Linked DNA regions of Homo sapiens: region 1 is linked to region 2. Evidence: fine-mapped expression QTL. Tissue or cell type: blood mononuclear cells. Region 2 holds a variant in brackets; the other region holds the start of a gene. All regions are shown on one strand. Distances are from middle to middle.

Evidence for each region. PIP is the estimated chance that this variant, and not a neighbour inherited with it, causes the effect.
Region 1: it holds the start of P2RX1, and the variant in region 2 is fine-mapped to the expression of P2RX1 in blood mononuclear cells (TOPMed, PIP above 0.99). The same link has a PIP of 0.9 or more in whole blood.

What each region holds. Positions count from the first base shown.
Region 1 is chr17:3,914,975-3,917,653 of GRCh38, forward strand. P2RX1 (purinergic receptor P2X 1) reads right to left here and starts at 1,491. Exons shown (of 12, transcript NM_002558.4): 1 at 1,115-1,491. The coding sequence starts at 1,251. RefSeq lists an enhancer at 595-664.
Region 2 is chr17:3,885,344-3,888,022 of GRCh38, forward strand. CAMKK1 (calcium/calmodulin dependent protein kinase kinase 1) reads right to left here. Exons shown (of 16, transcript NM_032294.3): 2 at 1-387. The coding sequence starts at 344. Among named protein-coding and RNA genes, the nearest start is that of CAMKK1, 6.4 kb to the right of the region's middle. The variant T/C (reference allele first, on the strand shown) is at 1,518.

The sequences.
Region 1 (2,679 bases), 30 kb after region 2:
CAGAAGTTTCCGGGGGACTAGGACTTCATGGTCCTTGTTTGGGCCCTGGGTCAGCCTGCCCTGGACTCCATTTAGCAGTTCTGGTTCGGAACCATGGTAAAAATGGGGAGGGTAGAGCTCTCAGAATCACACGGCAAAGGCAGGCAGGGGCTACTGGGCACCCCTAGGACCCCAGCAGGGGCTGAGCCCCCTCCAGTGGCCCTGGGGCCTCCAGGAGACCTCTGCAGAGTCACTGTGAGTGGACAAGATGCACCACACACAGGGGACACACACTGGCCACCCAGACACTTGGCCACAGGGCAGACATGGGCACAGCCATATGTACACATAAGGGTACCCACATGTGGGCACTCAGCACCAGGGACACACACCCAGACACATATAGGCACAGAGCTCCATATGCACACTCACAAGTGTGCCAGCCTCTGCCAGGCCTGTCTTGGCTCCCGAGACAACCATACTGCAGGAGCGTCCCACGCTGCCTCTGATTCTGCACTCCCAGCCCGGTGGGACAGGTCCGGAGATGCCCAGAAAGGAACTATCATCCCTGGGACCAGAACCAATCTCTGTCCTCCGCCTGACATGCCAACATGAAGGCACCAGGTATTCAGAATGTGAGAGTTTCTCTGCTCCGGGGGCCTCAAACGTCCCTGGATGTCCCTTGCTCAGGCAGGGAAGCTGGCAGCAGAGTCTGTCTCTCTCTAACTTGTCATATGGGGTGACGGGTGTGGGGTATGGCCTCTGTGTGTCAGTGGCGGCCTGGTTTGGCAGGCGGTCAGAGGTCGAGGACTCAGTGGCTGTGGTTGGTGGTGCCCTGGCCCTGAACACCACTAACCACTCAAAGGAACCATAACACTGAGCCGGCTCCTCAGAACCCAGAGACTCTGCCTCCTGTTCACCGAAGGCCCCCGGGCAGGGCTTCCCCTCCGGCCTCGTCCCCATCTCAACAGCGAGTTGGCAGGATTTTCTATTCTCGCACAGTGGCTTGCCAGGAAGGCCTTCCCCTGGATGGAGAGGAAGAGGGGCTCGCTGGTGTCACGCAAGGGATGTCAGAGTCTGGAGGACAGGCCCGGGGTAGGGGCTGGTGCAGGCAGCGGGAGGCGCCCGGACTCACCCGATGACGTAGACCAGGACCACCAGCTGGATCAGTCGGAAGATAACGCCCACCTTCTTATTACGCACCAGCACCATGCGGGGGGTGTCATACTCGAAGAGGAAGGCGGCCAGCTCCTCCTGGAACCGCCGTGCCATGGTGGGCCGGCTGGGGCTCAGAACTGAGCCCCCTGCACGGCCTCTGCTCTCAGGGTGAGCCGGGTGCCACCACCCACGTCGATGGTAGAGCTTCTGGGGGCTTCCTGGCCCCTTAGGAAGAGCAGGGCGGTGCAGGTGGAGCCAGAGGACAGGAGCCAGAGGTCAGCTGGAGGCACTTGGGTTGGAGAGAGAATCCCTGGGTGATCAGAGCAGCTCTTGGCCCCTGGAAGGCAACAGACTGCAGGCCAGCCTCGCCCATGGACAAATAAATTCCCAAAGATAGATGGGGCGGGGCTGGTGGGGCCACCCAGGCCCAGCCCCACTGCCCCTCCTGGCTCTGCGTGGGCCTTGTTGGGCCTCCGGAAACAGGAGTTGTTGGCAGGAAACCACAGGCCACCCGTCACAGGGGCAAAGATAAAGCTCTCAGTCGACTCCTCAAGTTATCCTCCCCCCAAAACCTGGCAAGATGGAGCTCTGGCCAGGGCCTGGGGGAAGCTGGAGTCTCCTCAGATTAGGGGACTCCCCGCGACTCCCCTCCACTGCCAAAATGAGACCTCCATCCCCAGCCCCATCCACCACCCTCCACCCTCCCCCACCAGGGTTGGCTGCTTCGTCCCTGGGGGTCTGCAGCGAGCAAGGCAGAGAGGAAGGAGGCTCTGAGTTCCAGCCTGGCCTGTGCCCGGTCAACCTCGGTGCTGAGCTGGCATCTCTATCCCCCAGCTCTCCTCTCCCACTGTCTGTCCTGCCGGGGCCACCATCAGAGGGAGAGAGGTGGCAGGTGCCCAGCCAAGACCAGCACCACATCCGTCACCAGTGCCATGGGGGGCCCAAGACCAGCCGAGAGAGCCTGACCTCGGAGATCCCTGGCTCTGCCACTTCTTGGCTGTGGGGGCTGGGTGTCACCTTGCCTCTCCGAGCCTGCTTCCTCATCTGTAAATTGGGGTAATAAGGGCTGTTCCTTCTAGGTCGAGGCTCACAGGGGATGGGTCTCAGCAACACGGGACAGAGAACTGGAGGCCACCATTGAGTCTGGGGCACAGCACCTCTGCAGTCCCTGCCTTCCCTTCCCACCCCCAGCTCGGGCCCTGAACACAGGGGTTTGGGGTGGGCAGAGGGTCCCACGTTGGCTCCTCAGAGCTGGAGGCCTCCCCAGCCCCACCCCTCGTTTTGAAGATGAGAAAACCAAGCTCAGAGAAGAGAAATGAGTTGCCCAAGCTCACCCGGGGTGGTACTGGAGGTTCAAGCTGGAAGCAGGGGCCTCCCTGGCGAGCCCCCACGGCCCTGTCGTCGGAGCCGCCCCACCCTTAAGGCTGATAAGGAGTCTTCTTGCTGGCGAGCCATGAGCTGGAAGTGCTCTGGGCAGGGAGCCAGGCCCTGGGGCTGGGAATCCCGGCAGCCTGTCTGAATGGGGGTCACCCACAGAGGGCT
Region 2 (2,679 bases):
GCCACGTGGTGGGACTCGATGGTGGGCCTCCGCCAGGCCCGGGGGGAGATGTGGCTGGCAGGCCCCGTGGCATAAGGCCCAGCCTGCGCCTCCAGATAGCTTCCTGCTGGCCGCTCCTGTAGGGAAAGCTTCCTGGCTGAGAGGCTAGGCCGGGCTGGGAGCAGTCTTGAAGTACTGCCAGGGATCACAGAGGCAGCTCTGGCCCGTGGTGGGGGGTCCACACCGTTTCTAGTAGGCTCTGGGCCACCATCTGCCTCCTCCAAGTGAGTCACATCGATGGCTGCCACCCGTTCTACCAGCTCTGCCCGAGGATCCTGGCAGCAGACAGCTGGACCCCCCTCCATTGCTTCAGTCAAGGGGGTTCTTCTGCGTAGCCTTGTTGGGAACCTGAGAAAAGAAGGCAGAGAAGGCTTCACTCCTGGGTGTCAGGCTGGCTACCAGGTAAGGTAGCCACAGCGCTGTGGGTCCCACCTCCATGCCTTTGCCCTGGCTGTTCCCTCTACCGGGATTGCCAACACCCAAACTCAAGTCTGTCCCTATGACCTGAATGAATTCACATCGGTTCTGCCGCATGCCAGCCCTCTAGGCCTCAGTATCCCTGCCGGTAACAGAGGCAGTCACTTCTGCCTGCTGGCTTCACAGGGAAGCAGAGAGAATCTGATATTCTGGAATCAGGACAGACAGGGCAGAAGCCTGGAGGCCCAGCAGCACTGGAAGGGGCAGAGCCCAGGGTCAGCTCAGCCCCAGCACAGCATGCAGCCCTGTGAGTCATGAGTCCCAACCCTTGACAGCAGAGCACTCCGACACTGCCTCCTGGAAGCTGAGCTAGACACTAGTAACTCAGAAGCCTTGCTGATGCTTCAGACCCACCCGCCTCCTCCAGGGAGCCCTCCTTGATGTTTCAGCCTCCTACCCCCATCCCTCTCACTGCTTCCAGGAAGACTTCCCTGGGGCTCCCGACTCCAGCCAGCCCTGCCTCATTGACGTCTGTCAAAACAAGGGGATGGGCCCCACATGGTGGCTCACACTTGTAATCCCAGCACTTTGGGAGGCCGAGGCAGGTGGATCACCTGAGGTCAGAAGTTCGAGACTAGCCTGGCTAACATGGCAAAACTCTGTCTCTATTAAAAATACAAAAATTAGCCAGGCATGGTGGCGTGCACCTGAAATCCCATCTACTCGGGAGGCTGAGGCAGGAGAATCGTGTGAACTTGGGAGGTGGAGGTTGCAGTGAGCCAAGATCACGCCACTACACTCCAGCCTGGGTGACGGAGCAAGACTCGGTTTCAAAAAAAAGCAAGGGGATGAGAATGAGGGGAATGAGGGGTGAAACAGGGGCATGACATCCCCTGAGACTCATGTTCTCAAACTCACTGTGTGGCGGCTGAAACATCAGGGAGGTGACCCCCAGCCCTCACCTTCAGCCATGACCCTGGGCTACATCCTGACCCCGGACTGAACCCTGACACTCAGCCTGAGACCCCCATCTCTGTCCCAGGCTTGTAGAGCGCTGGCCA[T/C]GCCCAACCTGATGCCCTTCCCCCTGCTTGCGCTGGACTCTGCATGTTCTCAGGAGAAGGAAGTGAGTGAACTCCTGACCCTCCATCCTTCCTGTCTGCTGGTAACTTCCTCCGAACCCACACAGCAACTGAGAACATGGGTCTCAGGGAGACCCAGAGTACGCATGGTGAAGCGCCTGCTCTACCGCTCGTTCCCCATCCCCTTGCTTTGACAGATGTCAGCGAGGCAGGGCTGGCTGGAGTCCACCGGCCACTGAGGAGCCAGGACTGGGTTCCAGTCCTGCCTGCTGACCCACCAGGGGCCCTAGACCAGCTCCTTCCCGACTCTGAGCCCCAGTCTCCCGACTTGTCCTGTGGATTCCCTGCCTTCCCATATTTTCCAGGCTCACAGCAGGGTTTGGAGGTAGACTGAGGGTAAGGGTGAGGTCCAGACCCCCTGTGCCCGGTACGCAGTGTGTTGAATGAGTAGAAGCCTGGAGGCGGTGGGGCTGGTGCTGACATGGAGAAAGGAAGAGAGGAGGCTCCACACTAGGAACAGGAAAAGTCATGGAAGCTGGACCCAGAGGAGTGAGAGGGAGTTAATGAGGCTGGAACATCAAGGAGGCCTCCCTGGAGGAGGTGAAGGAGGTGAGGAGGCTGAGTGAGGCTAGAGTATCAGGGAGGCCTCCCTGGAAGAGAGGGCAGGAGACAGTGAGTGCGGCTGTGGCACAAGGAGGCCTCCCTGGAGGAGGTGAGAGGGGACAGGGAGTGGGGCTGTGGCACAGGGAGGCCTCCCTGGAGGAGGTGAGAGAGGACAGAGAGTGGGGCTGTGGCATAAGGAGGCCTCCCCAGAGGAGGTGAGAGGCTGTGGCATAGGGAGGCCTCCCTGGAGGAGGTGAGAGGGACAGTGAGTGGGGCTGGAGCTTCGGGGAGAGCTTGGAAACCAGACAGCATAGGAAGGAGGAAGCCAAAGCTGGGAACACCCTCCAGGACCCGCCAGGCTCCTCCCAGCAGGTGGCCCACCCCTCCGCCCCTTCCCCTCACTCCGCATGCCTTGTTTTTCCCTCCCGAATGTAAGTTTCATGAGATTAGGACGCTCATCTGCCTTGTCTCCAAAAGATCATCAGTGCCTGGCATGTGATAGGAACTCGATAAATATTTGTTGAATAAATGAGTGGTTGCC